Homo sapiens: one gene and its partner. The protein of the gene in region 1 interacts with the protein of each later gene in a pairwise test. Each region holds a gene or a part of one and is shown on either strand. Other genes may lie near its edges.

What was found.
Region 2: the proteins of RUNX3 (region 1) and MEX3C interact in binary tests that used the Homo sapiens proteins (3 or more experiments, as listed by UniProt).

The regions. Positions count from the first base shown.
Region 1 is NC_000001.11:24,899,000-24,906,276, forward strand, and holds the end of RUNX3 (runt-related transcription factor 3), read right to left. Parts: intron 3,668-7,277; coding exon 3,123-3,667; 3' UTR 512-3,122; downstream 1-511. UniProt on the Homo sapiens protein: Forms the heterodimeric complex core-binding factor (CBF) with CBFB.
Region 2 is NC_000018.10:51,187,435-51,194,711, forward strand, and holds part of MEX3C (RNA-binding E3 ubiquitin-protein ligase MEX3C), read right to left. Parts: intron 5,629-7,277; coding exon of another isoform or gene 5,573-5,628; exon of another isoform or gene 5,472-5,572; intron 1-5,471. UniProt on the Homo sapiens protein: E3 ubiquitin ligase responsible for the post-transcriptional regulation of common HLA-A allotypes. Binds to the 3' UTR of HLA-A2 mRNA, and regulates its levels by promoting mRNA decay.

The DNA of each region.
Region 1 (7,277 bases):
CATGGACCTTGATGACACTCCTTCTTTGCACCGCAGTTGTCTCATCTGCAAAATGGGGGCACTGAAGTTGCCGCTTACTCCCAATCCCCACTGCTGCTAGCTTGCCACAGATCTTGAAACACGAGCCTCAGAGGGGGGTTCTCACCAAGGCACTTGGACTCTCCCTCTGCCTCTGCCCCCTCCCGAAATGTGAATCTGAGGAACAGGCATAGGAATTCCTCCCAACACGGCTGGGAAGACTCACAGCCCGCTCATGATTGGTGGAAGGGTTGTGGCACTTTGAAGACCTATTTGATGCTCTCCTGGGGTCCCAGCCATACAGGAGCAGGCCTCACCGGCTGTCCTGTGGCCAGGGTGGTCTCTGCGGCCATTCCTGAAGAAGTTGGAAGCAAGGAGATGAAGGTGCTGGGTGTCTCTGTTCCTGTTCCTCCTGGGCAACAGCAGGAGGTCTCCATCCTCTCCCCCACCCCACCCCACCTCCATGCATAGCCCTAGAAACCGGGCACTGGACTCCTTCCACACATCTCAGAGTTATATTATTGTAACAAATCAGTCAAAATTCCATTTTACAGTTAAATAGTACAGAAGACAGTTTACTGTACAAGCAAGTTGTGCGTTAAAAACAAACACCAAGCAAACGATAGTGCAAAGCAGTTTCCACCCAGCTCCATCCTCTCGCCAGCTCTGGGATGGTTTTACATCAGATGAGTGCAGCAGGTGTCACACCTCAGCATGACAATATGTCACAAAAGATTGGTACCCACTACTGACAGGCTCACAGTAACACTATATCAAAACGTCTTCCTTTCCTCGTGCTTCCTACATCAGTGTGTTTGCCTAGTACAACTTTAACGCAGCCTTGTAAATAAGGACCTACTTTTACCAGCCCAGGCTGTCTGTACCCACTTTGGGCCTTACAGACTCAGTACGGCTGCCGTCACTTTTTGTCAGGGGATGGGGGATGGGGTAGGAAGAGCAATTTATTTACTATCCCTGCCTCTCCAGGATCAGGAAGGGTTAGTAATCTGGGATGAGACTACAAAGTGCTGGGCACTGGGAACCCAAAGGTGCCTCCCACGCTGACCTGGGACCAGCTATAACCAGAGAACAGGAGGGAAGAAACTACAAGGACAATGGATTCATAGCTGCTTCCTAAGAAGGCATGGAGAGGCCCCTTGGGTGCAGGGAGTCAGCAACTATTTTGAGGAGATGGAGACTGTTTTTCCAGTGAGGACAGGCCAAGAGAAACCGCAGCAGGAGGGAATGGAATAGGATCACCAGAAGGACTGCCTAACCTGCCAGTGTGTCTCTGGTGTATGGTTCTGGCCGTTGTGACAGGTTGGGTGGGGACAGTGCTCTCACAGAGACAACCAATGAAGAGCATTTTGTAGGGCAGATTTCTGCATCCACAGAGGCCGAGGCAGAAAGTTAAAATACCGCATGCTGCTAGCCTTTATGAGTTCCCTTACGCCTTTTCTAAGCCTTTCTAGGGCCAGAGAACTCTGATGTGAGAATCCATGCAGCCTGGCCCTTGGGCAAGCGCCCACTTTCCCATTTTGCAAAATTCAGGGGCAAGACTTCACCTCGGAACGCAGTGCAGCTGAGCTGCGGCTGGAGAGCCCTTTACAGTGCTTCTGTCCTGCCACGCACAGCCAGTACTCCCCACCTCTCACATCCTGCCCACCTCCGCCCAGCCTCCTGGACAGATGTCCTAGAGCCACAGAGGAGAGATGCCCAGCGTCTCATCAGCGTTTCCCTCGTCCTCCCAGGGGAGCCTGTGGTGCAGGCTGGTGGGATGCTGCCTGATGGGGAGTGTAGCCCCTTGAGAAAGTATTGAGACCCTAATAACCCCACACCCTCAGGAGGCAGCTGGGGGTCCGCGGGGGGGAGAGGGGGCGGGGATGTTGCTTATAATCACAGAGCTATCATAATCACGGAACTATACCTGTAAGAGACCTTGTGTTTGAAAACGTTAGATTAAGCTTCTTTTTCTAAAATCAGTTTTAAAAACTGTTTTGTTTTTTTTTTGTTTTTTTGTTTTTTTTTTTTTTTTGCTCAGGACTATTTGCTTTCAGAGCACAAAACAGGTTACAGACAGGTGTGTGCCAGGAGTCGCAAGATTTGGCTGGATCCTCCCAGGAGGCTTGGGGGATGGGGCACAGCTTGGCTGGACCCAGGGGGGACAGGGACATTGATGTCTGACCCAAAATGATCCCTCACCTCAATGCCTTCTGCTAGGACCTATCTATCTGGCCCTCCTGTTCTCTCCACAAATGGAATTATGAGACCACCTAGGGGAAAGGGGACCTCCTATCCCCCCTCCCCCGCCCTGCCAAGAGAACAGAGAGTGGATGCGTTGAGCTGGTAAAGTGCATGGAGGAGCCGGTCTGTAGGTGCTTTCCTGGGTTTAAGAACCTGATGCCATAGACTCATCTTCTCTGGGGCCTGGGACCCGTGCGGCTGGGGGAAAGCCAACAGTTAGGAACGGAGGGGAAGCTGGGCTGGGGGGACTGGCTTGGATGTGTTCTCAAACCATCTCTGCCAGCAGCGTGCTGGGTCCTGCCCCATCTGTACAATGAGGGGAACCCCGCTCGAGGGTGGTGGGGGTGGGGGACACTTTCCAGTTCTGACTCAAATCTGTGTAAATGCAGAGGGGGCTGGACCCAGGGGATGCAGGGGCTCCAACGAAGGTGCAGGGGTCGGGAGGTTTCCCAGGGCCTGAGGCTTATCCTGTGGGCCAATGCTGCCTCTCTCTGGAAGAGAGATGGCCTCTGTCCCAGGAGACATGGGTCCCATGCAGCACTGGGCATAGCTGGAGACAGTGAGGTCCTTCCGGGGGGGTGGCAGGAGGCTGATTCCCCACAGAAGTATGGGATGAGACGGCCAGGATCTGGGCCGGGGGCAGTATCCCGGGCCGGGGTGGGGGTGGTAACCTATGCCTCTGTACAAGGATGTGGCTGCACAGATGCAGCCAGAGGCTCCCACCAGCTGGGACCACCCTGGGACCGAGACCACCCTGGAGCGCAGGTCCCATTCCCGCCCGGAGCCTCGGAGCCGGCCCATCACTGGTCTTGAAGGTTGTTAGGGTCCCCGCCTCCAGCGGGAGGAGTCCACCAGGGCGGTCAGTAGGGCCGCCACACGGCCTCATCCATGCGGCCTGGCGTGCTCAGGGCCGTGGGTGAGTTGCTGTGGCTGCCGTCGGCCTCCACGCCATCACTCTGGCCGCCCAGGCTGGGGTTCATGAGGTTGCCGGCGGCGACAGAGGCAGCGCTGCTGGTGCAAGAGGCCAGCATGCGGGTAGGTGAGCGGTCGCCCCCACTGCTGCTGCCGGCCACCATGGAGAACTGGTAGGAGCCAGAGGATGTCCCGTAGTAGAGGTGGTAGGGGGACGGGTTGGCCTGGAAGGGCCCGCTCTGGTTCTGCGGGGCCCCCGGGTAGGGTGGCGGGAGGTAGGTATGGTGGAAGCGGCTGGTGGCCGGCATGCCCGCCACGCTGAGGCTGCTGATGCTCGTGCCCGAGGGCGTGGCGCTGTAGGGGAAGGCAGCTGACATGGCCCCGGGATAATGCATCCTGGGGTCTGGGAAGCGGCTCTCCGTGAGGGTTGGCAGCGTGGGGAAGGAGCGGTCAAACTGGCGGGGGTCGGAGAATGGGTTCAGTTCCGAGGTGCCTGGAGGACAGCAGGGAAGAGGTCAGTTCCAGCTCGAGACAACCCCAGGAGGGCTTCCTGAAGAATGACCTTGGGCTCTGGTTCCCAAGGCCCATCTGGGGGACCCCTAGTTCTAGACCTGGCTCTCCTCTTCCTGCCCTAGGCTGCCCGGGGCCTCCCCCGCCAGGACTCCGAACACAGACCTGCCGGGAAGCTGGTTGGAGCGTGCCCCGGGCCAAGAGGGGCCATGGGAGCCCCCCCACAGCAGCAACAGAACAGAGGAGGGGGTCTATTCTTCTTTTTAAATCCTCCTTCCCAGCCTCGCAGAGGAGAGGCCTAGGATGCGGTGGTGGGGCTGAGGGCAGAGTCAGCTCAGGCCTCCCAGCAGCCCTGCCCAGGCAGGTTCCTCTCCCCACCGGCCCATGTTAACAGCTGGGAAGGCCGTGGATGTGTAAAGGGCTCCAATGACCGTGTGAGACTGGGAGTTGGAACCCGCTTTTGAAGACAAGAAAATGGAGGCAGAGAGAGAGCAAGACTGAGTCTCTGTGGCAGAGAAAGGACTGGTTCTCATCACAAGGCCTCTGCTGGGGACACACGTGCCTCTCCTGCCCAGGTGCAGCACGCGGAGGTTCTGTGCGCTCACACCTGGGTTGTGGGCACTGAGTTCACAGGAGCTCTGGCCTCCACCTCACCCTGGGCCTGTGTCTCTGGAGCCGACTCGTGGCCACACAGTGACTGGATGCCACCCTAACCTGCCTTGGCAGCAAAGTGAGACAGCAGTCAGACAAACTTGGGGACCCAGACCCCAACCTGGTCACAGTGTCCAGCCCAGACTCTGCCCCTGCTCCCCCAGGAATGTGGCTTCTCAATGGGCTCCAAGGCAAGGGTGTTCCATCCTCTGTCCCCAACTTTTGTCATCACAGACCCCCAAAACCTCAGCATTCAAAGGGGCTCAGGGATTGAGTCTAACACCCTTGATGGGGAAACTGAGGCCCAGACAGGGTGAGGCACTTCCCTCAGGGTCACACAGCACATTGGACCTGGCACACAATCCTAGGGCCTCTGGTCCTGAGCCCCAACACGTACTTGAGAGGGAGCTGTCCCGTCTTTGAGGCAGCACAGGATCAAGGCTTACTGTGTGGCTTCTGGAGCCGGACAGTTATCCTGGTTTGGACACTTACTAGCTTTGTGTCCTTGGGCAAGTCACTTAACCTCTCTGCGCATCAGTTTCCCCATATAAAACATGAGACGATAACAGTTCATCAGGATTCAGTTAATTCACATCGAGTACTTAGAATGGCACTGGGCACAGAGCAGGGGTCCATGAGGCTTTGCAAGGCCACTGTGGCTGTGGTGTCTCTTACTCTGGGTACCCAGGAGAACTGGCTCATTCAGGGCCCTGCCAAGTTGAGGCCCTGGTGCAGGGCCTCCCTTCTACTCTGGCAGCCGGGGGAGGTGGATGAGCCCCCAGCAGTGGTCCAGAGGTGCAGTCTGTCCAGCCCAGCAACCCCTCTGTGTCACCCACCAAAGGATAAGGGCCGGTGCTAGCCGGAGTGGGCTCTGCCTGCCACGCCGAGGCTTGGCTGAGGACGGAGAGCTATGAGCCTGAGGTGTGTGTGACTTCGGCTGGGACTTGGAACTTCTCGGGGCTTTGGGGTCTTCCCAAGTCAGCTGGGGTATGTTTCCCTCAGCAGCGTACTCTGGCCCTGGGCGTGGATCCGAACGGAGTGATGCTCCTGGCTTAAGGTAAGAAGATGTGGGGACAGCAGTCTGGGTGGCGGGGGCCTTCTGGGACATCTGGGATGTTCCCTAGTAGGTCACTTGGCTGTCCCGGCCCCTTGAGGCCGAGAGCCTCCGAGGCACCTGGCTGCCAGTTTTCATCTGGGGAGCCCCTCGGGGGGAGAGGTCCTGTTGCAGGTGCTGGGCACGTCAGCACAGCTGAGATGGGTGGGGTGGAAGTGGGTGCTGGCCGCCTGATGGGAACCCCATTCTCAAGACGAAGGAAACAAATGGGGACCGCAGGATACAACGGCAGGACTGTGCCCCTCAGAGCTCACGCGGGCTGCAGGGCGCTGGGCTGGGCCTCCCTGGACCTGCCACCATCCCCTCCAGCCTCTTTCCTCAGGGCCACCACCCCTCCTCCGGGGTGGTGGGGGAAGTACCTGCCCTCAGCACTCCCTCAGACCCCCCAGCAGCTTCCTTGGAGCTCCTGTACCCCCACCCTGCGGCCTCGCAGCCCCAGGAAACCCGAGCTGCCCGGGGCACTGTCGAGTGGCCAATCCCAACAGTGGAAAGAAATGTTTATTTTCTTCTCCAGATTGTCCGGGCTGCTGCATGGTGGCTGAATGAGCCCTTTCAGCTGTGAGAAGCCCCCATTGTGGGCGGCTGCGGCTGGGGGCTGGGGCTGGGGTATGGGAGGTGCTGGGGTCTCTGCACTGCTTGCCAGTGACCAATATTGGAGGGTCAAAGCACTTAACAGGCACCGAGGGAAGTGGTGGTGGGGTGTCCCAAGGGGGATCCCCAGGAGGGAGTCCGAGGGCAGAGGGAGGAGGGCCTGTGAGAGTGACTTCCCAAGCCTAGGTCTGCCAGCAACCCCTCTTTGTCAGGGACCTCCTTCTCCCCACTTCACAGATGAGAAAACTGAGGCTGAGTTTAAGTGACTTGTCTAAGATCATACAGCCAATGCCTGGCAGAGCCTGAATTCCTAGCCTGGTCCAGCTGACTGCAGAGTTCATGCTCGCCCTGTCCTGGTCATCCGAGGCCCTTTCTCTCACCCAAAGGGGATGGGCCTGAGGATGGAGATGCCTGGCTGCCTGTGGCCCAGTGCTGTGGGGGGCTAGCGAGGGACTGGGCCAGGCCTCAGGAGGGAGCAGGCAGAGAAGCAGAAGTCAGCCACTGCCCCACACAGGCTGGGCTCCTTTCCTCCCAGCCCAGGATGGAAGCAGCAGCTGTGCCTGCCGTGGGGCCAGGCATTGATTCCCAAGCTGTGCCCACCCAGCAGTGGATGGGCAGATGTGGGCTCTCCTTCCATGGGGGCTGGTGGACAGGAAGCCACTGTTCACCCCACCTCCTGGATTCTGGCTCCCCCGCTGAGCCCCGATCCCCTGGCCTGGCTCTGTCCATGGCAGAGAAAGGCTGGCTCTCAGGCTACTGCACCTCGACAGATGCTGGCCCATGGGTAGCAGAAGCAGAGGCAGCTACGCGGCAGGGGTGGGCGTGAGCACAGCGTGCAGGGCTCCTTCCGCTACCTCTTGAGAGCAGACCTCCAACTCCTGGGCTCGAGAGCTGAGAGTCTCAAATGCACTAGCTCCTGGGCTCAGAGAGGCTGGGCCTGGGGCTTCTCCCAACCTTGGCGTCTCAGCAGGACCAAGGCCAAAAGTCCTGAGCCCAGGCCAGAAGGGGAGGGGTCCTCTCTTCACACTGAAGGCCTGCATCCAGCCCCTGGCTGCAGCACTATGCCTGGAACAATGTCAGTAGAGAGACCCAGTCGGCCCCCACCTCAGCGTGGCACCGGAAAAGGGGGTGGGGCAGGCAGACCGGTTGGCAGCCCTGTTCCAGGCCCCTTTATCTGTCCCCTCAGAAGTACAGAAAGTTCTTGGGAGCAGGTACTGTGGAGACTGTGGACCTGGTC
Region 2 (7,277 bases), on another chromosome or scaffold:
CAAACTATGATTAAAGATACTTCCTTCGTTTGTTTTTTGCAAAGATTAAATGAAATAATGTATTAAAAATGCTTACTACAATGCCTGTTATTAAGTGCTTAGCCCAAGTTGTCTTAAGTCCACACTCCTTTCATCACACTATTTTCCCCTAAAAACACATCATTTTGGGAGGCTGAGACAGAAGAATCGCTCGAACCCGGGAGGCGGAGGTTGAGGTCAGCAGAGATCACACTACTGCACTCCAGCCTGGGCAATAAGAGCGAAACTCCGTCTCAAAAAAAACAAAAACAAAAACAAACAAAAACCCTAAATCATCTCACGTTTCATGATATATAAGAATGAATGAAGGGGTTGTATTAATAATTTTATACAAAATAAGGTCCCTTTCCCCTTGGAATAGTCTAGACAGAATATTCAAAAGCTCCTTTCATTTTATAGAAACACATAAAATACTGTATTAAGGTGTTACAGTAAATATGGAATTGCCATTAGTTCTATTAATCAATTCTAGTATTCTATCTTCAAAGACTAATGAGTATCAACTAAATCCCAGTAAGAATGTTTCATGTACACAACATTAATTCAACATTTTAAGTAATAATTTAAGAATGCAATGTATTCCTAAATGCATAATATAAAACTAATAGCTTTCCTTTCTAGGGTTCAAGTGGCCTCCTTGTAGCTATTTTAAGGCAAGAATACTGTTTGTCTCACTTTAGGGATTACTATGACAATACTTCAAACACCTTCATTTATGTGATTTTAGTTTCATTATCAGTATTCATATAAACATTTAATGCCTTCAATCAAGTAGCATCTACTGTACTTCAAACAAAAGTGCCAAACAACTTGAGGTTGACTGGGTCCTTACATAAAAAGCTGTTTGGCCAGTTGTGGTGACTTATGCCTGTAATCCCAGCACTTTGGGAGGCCGAGGTGGGTGGACTGCTTGAGCTCAGCTTCAGCTCAGAAGTTCAAGACCAGCCTGGGCAACATAGTAAAACCCCGTCTCTACCAAAAATACAAAAAACTAGCCAGGCGTGGTGGTGTGCACTTACCGTCCCAGCTACTGGGGATCACTTGAGCCTGGGAGGCGGAGGTTGCAATGAGCTGAGATTGCTCTACTGCACTCCAGCCTGGGCGACAGAGTGAGACCCTGTCTCAAAAAAAAAAAAAATTAAAAAAAATGCTGGGAATAAAGGCAAGAGGGAAGAAAACCCCAATTAAAACAATATGGAAAGTACAATGATATAAACAATAAAATGGCAAGTTTATAAGAAAAAAATTTAGTTCAATAAAATAAAAAGGAAGTATTCCACTTTGTTTTAGGTACTTTAACCAATATTAATAATGCAAAGATGACTAAGATTCAGTTCTACCTTCACTGACTTGTATTAACTTCAAGCACTGAAAGTATTTAGTGATACATGTTCATGTACACATAGTGACCTATTTTCTTTTCTTATACTGTTGGTTGGTGACAGTAGTCAGATCTTCTACAATATCCTTGCTGATTTTTGTCTACTTGTTCTACCACTTACTGAGATAGGCACGTTGAAGTCTCAAACAATAATGGCTTGAGACCTTGGATAAGTTGTTTGTAACTCCATAGACTTGTTTATCTGTTCGGTGGAATTAAGAATGGATTAAATGAGATGACACATGTAGTTTTTGCACAGTGCCTGACACAAGTTTGTTGTTATTAAAAGACAAGTGAACTGATTTTTATAGGGAGTTAAAAACATTTAAAGAAACTCCTAAAGATAAAACATATCATAAACTTTGCAAAATTGAGAAGATTTTGCAAAGTCAATCTAACTGGTAATATGAAATCTGGTTTACTTTTACCTCATTTTAGGGACTCTCTTTGGACAAAAATCAGAATATAAGAAATGTGACAGACCACCTAGTTAAATCTCATTTTAGACATGAGGAAAACCGAAGCCTAAAATTGTCCAGTTATAAACTAGTGACCCCTAAACCAATGTTCTCTCAAGCTGCCTTATTTTCCTAAATCCCAATAAGAATATTTCTAGTGTATTTTTAGGAGTGGAGAAGAATTCCCTGCATGTACAAGGTATTTTAAAAAACAGAAGTTAAATTAAATCTAAAACCCCTCTTTTTTCACTTATTTTAGACAAGACAATAAAAAATATTTAATGAAAAGTTTTATTATTTGGCCTTTCAGTAAACCTGAAAGAAAAAACCAGAAGAGGGTGTAAATTAGAGATGAAAGGCAGAAGTTTTCCTAACTGGGGAGCTTGAAATTATGTTCATGCTCTTTGGAGAATGTTAACAGAAACCTTAGAATTATCTGTCTGGGTACCATACAATGGAATTAGATTCATTTGTAAATGATTCTCTTCCAGACTTGCTTAGTTCTTTGCCAGGAAATACATTTCCAAAGCTCTGATTTTAAATAAATTTTAAGACATATTATAAATTTAAAAAATATAACTTACATAATTTATTGGTATAGCCTACGAAAAACTTACTAAAATGACATTTTTTGGCTTTAACTAGCATTTGTTCAGAGTATAAAAGAAATTTAGCAGTAAAAATTTACCTTATCTGATATATAATTTATCATCTCTGTACTTTCAATTGTACTGTCAATTTCTACTAATGCTATCTTCTCAGACTTGATCCTCACAACAAATGAGGGAGAGGGGAGAGAGAAACCTGGAAGAACAAGTAGATGAAGTAGGTTTTTTCCAGAAGAGAAAACAGGCTCAGAGAGGTTAAGTGATTTATCCAAGGTCACAGGCAGCAAGTGCAAAACACAAGGTTTCTAACTCCAAGTCCAATGTCCTTTCCTGCATTATACTAAATGGCACTGGTAGAAAGGCAGAAGAGAAGGCAAAGGGAAAGGGAGGCACAGAGAAGGGAAATAATAATAAAAAGGTCAGCCCCAAATGCAAATATATACTTTTACATTGGTAACCATTTTGGGAGATCTTTTCTAGTTGTTTGAAGCCATTCCCTCCCCACTTCCCCTTCAATCATGTTCAAGACCAAATTACTTATGCTTACCTTCAACTACATCTGCAGTTTTCATTAAAGGATTTTCTTTTATTATTTTAAGGCTTAGTCTTATTATTCCATGATAGACTTTACTTGTGACCAAACCAGGCTTCTCTGCATGCAATGAGGAATTGTAGTCCGTACTTACCGGACAAGGGCAACAAACACTTGAAGTGTCCTTACATCTCAAACACTGGCATGGAAGAGGTCCTATAGTTAGTGTAACTTAAAATTCTCAAAGTCAGTTATAGAATAAAGACTTGAACTACTCAAACAGTATTAGACTATGCATACATTCAATTTAGTATATCTGGGTTTGGTAATCCTAACATTAGAAAATTATTTTCAAGGCTTAAATATCAGATTTAATCTTTGTAAGTCTCTATATAGTAACTAATGGTAGCATGGGGAAAATGTTAAAAGTAAATCCACAAATTATGGCATATAAGCTACTTGGGAAGCATTAAGAATGCAGTTTAATAAAAAAGGTATCACTTAAGGATCACCTGAATATCAATGGAGATTTAAACATAACTATCCATGATCTACTTGGAGCTTCTTAAAAAGCTTTTTTTATTTTTAAGTGCAAATACACTCCTTTAGTATCTTATGAACATTATCTACTTTCTCATCTTGAGTTTGGTTACAAATTCTACATGGCAGGAATGACACTGTTTAGAATTCTATAACAATCCTATAAATTATAAAATAGTACTGTAGTAGTCATCATGGCTCTCCTTGTGGGCACATAGTTGTCATATACTTTCTCAGCCTTTTGAAGTTAGGTGTGGCCAGATGATTTGCTTTAATGAAATATGAGCAGATGTGATAAGCATTACTTCCGGATCTAACATTTTAAGACCAGTATGTGCTATGCTGTAGTCTTTCATCTTCTGGCACAACAGAAGATCAGTAACACTGGAGATGGTGGCTGCTGTTGGCCTGTGTCCCTGAATGACTAAAATGAGCAGAGCCCCTATGAACAAGAAATAAACCATAGTTGTTTTAACACTGAGGTGTCAGAGTTCTTTGTTAACCACAGCATAACAAGCCCATCTTGACAGAAGTGCCAAGTATCTAAAAGGCATTCAGATATCCGTTGGTTCTAGTTCTATTACATTGGAAGAATATAATGAGTCAAACTATCTGCTAAAGCCAAAAAAGGTGGACATGATTAAACGGTGGTTCCAAATTAATTTCAGATTTACCTTAACAAAAGTAATGTGCTTAGCACTTACAGTTTCATATATGTCGATTTCTTTATCTTCCAGAGTCTCTACAGGAATTGTAGATATGATTATGCCCAGGTGCAAAAGAGGAATCTGAAGCCTAGGGAGTTTAAGTGACTTGTTCAAGATTACACAGTGAGTTATTGGCACAGGAATATCTATTTCTGATTTGGTTCTTTCCAATATACCACAGCTGAACAGAGACTGTCACAGGCAGTTTGGTGTAGCTACAATAGGTATTTTTACATATTGTATAAGCTACGATATTAAAATACACATACTAAAACATTTTTATGTTTAAGGCAAAAGTATTCAAAACCAAATCAGCAATATATTAAGCATTCCCTTATAACTAAATGCTACCTTTCCTTAAAAACTTACGCTGTAAAGAACCACCTAGAATTCCAACCTATAAACATTGTTTGAAAATTTTCTAGATAGAAATCTCTAACAGACTAACACAAATACTTGGTTCCCTGGATCATTTTCAGGTTGTTGGTAACCAAGGGGTACAAAATACACCCTTGAATTACCACTTCATTTCCCATTTCCTCCCTAGTGAATCAGAATAGTTCATTAGCTGAATAAGGCAGGAAGAAAGGCAGTAGATTCCCCACCCATTTGCAAAAACAATTACAGTAACTGAACCCTTCTCAAGGGTCCCAGAACTAATACAAACCATTATTAACGAAATTTAAATTTTAAAGCCTAGAAAAATTGTAATATTTAATTTTTAAAGCTAGTGTCTATATATATACGCAAATTAACTTTCTGTACTACAAATGACAGTAAATTTTTAGCTGGACACATTAGAACTATATTACAATTAAAACTGTGCCTTGTGGGTAGTACAGACACCAAAATTTTATCAAGTAAACTAATTTGGATAGTGGTATTTTAAATTATGCATATTAGAAATTCAGTATCCTACGATTAGGGCACAAGTTAATCCAAAATACTAACCTTCCAGAGCAGAATGCTTCAATACTGAAGTGGCAATGTAGAGTACAAAGAATTTTATTTCTGATGTCAAACTATGCTAAATCCAATCTCAACTATTTGAGCAAGTTAGCTCTCAGAACCTCTGTTTCTACCTCTCTAAACGGCAGTAACCACCTAGCAGGGTTAAACGGCACTGGTGAAGCACCTAACATAGTACTAAGCAAAGAGAAGTCCAACAATGCACCCTCATCCCCATAAAAGAAAAAGACACTGTGCTGTAGCATCATTCTGAAACTATTTATTCTCATGAAATATGTACTTCTCCTTGAAGAGAAAATTTATGTACAGCAAGACCAAGCTTTCTCTTTTTCTCCTGGTCACAGACGTATAAACCCTATTTCAGTTGTGTTAGAGCTTGAAGGGTGGTTCCACCCTAAGAAATTGGGAAGACAAATTGAAACAGTGTAAAGTATTAATTGTTAATAAAGAATTTTGTTTTATAATGTGTAATATATTAAGCACACTTACTATTCATACATAAATATCCAGATATTGGGAGTATGCACATTTTTTTTGGACAGGGTGTACAATAAAAAGAAGCTAGAGACGACTTTTCTAGACTATGTGGCTAGAGAACACACATAGACCATTAATTAAAGTCTAATGAAAGATACACATTTATCCTAATAGTAATACAAAATCTTGGGTTACAAGTCTCTAAACAACTGAATTTATGACATTTAGTATTAATTTATAATGTATTAAGAATGGGTATACAGTTCTATTTTAATTCACTTTTTAGTCTAAATGGATATAAATGACTGTACAAATTGGAACAAAACCTGCTGACTAAAATTAGACCTGTTAATCACTGTTAATATGTCTTGCAGGTACTATACTTAAAAACAGAGACGTTCTAAGTTTATAAAATTAGGTCTTAAAATCTGTTGTCAGGTTTATTTTTGATGTCCATATTCTAAAACTTCTTTGATTATATCAACAAGCCTCTTCAGTTCCTGGCTTTATTTTACAGTATTGTTGTTTCACAACAGATGCAATGCTTTAAAAAACAAGGCCAATTTAACATTTACAAATGACCATATGCTACTGGGGAGTATAAATTCGAGGTCAAACACTCTGCCAACTTTCATCAGTATCAAAAGCGGTAGTTTGTGTTTTAGAAAAACACTGGAACTCAGAGGCCATCTACATGAGTTGCTAGTCTATGTGACTCAGAATTCCATTTGTCCTGCTCTTTGCTTCAGAGCTGAAGTCATAAATGTCTCCATCTGTGACATAATTATTTCCAAAATCAATTAAGAGATGTCAAATAGAAAATTATGGCTTCAGGTAATACATAAAATGGCAGAAATGGATAATTTAATCTTAAGGATGAAAGTTTAGCTCCTTCAAAGCAAACAAGAAAATGAAATGATTTGCCCTGTTTTACTTACTTAGGACAGATTCTCTCCCGTGGGGAAATATAATACTGTAAAAGAATGTGAACATTAGAAGTCACTTCGTTCTCCATACGAGTGAGCAAACACTTTACAGGTTTATTACTATGCTGCTGGGACATGGGGGTGGCAAAGGGGTCAATGATCCACAAGTTGTATGGTTCAGAACAGCAAAAGGACCAGATTTTCTGCTTTTAAGATAGAGGATGATGACATACTTTTAACAGTATTGTCAACTCTGGGAAAATACAAGGTTTAAATGGAAGAGCCAGCAATTTGTCTCCATGATCTAAGACATAATTAAATTCAACATTTCCTTATTAACCAAATAAACACAGCCCTCAAAAGAAAAACTAAGGCTTTATCTCATTTCCTATCACGTAATAGCTGGTACAAAATAAAAACTTGGAATTCACTTTACTTTTAAAAAACTGATTTCTATAAAGATTAACAACATACACAAGTAAGGGCCATTTAGCAGTGCTTTAAGGGGTGTCTACTATAATGAAGGACTAAAGTTTGTATTAAACTAAATCTATAAAATATGTTATCTTGTCCTTCAGTAAAACTGGCACGTAAATGTTTTCTTCCTTTGTTACCCTAGACTGTTACCATAAGCACACGG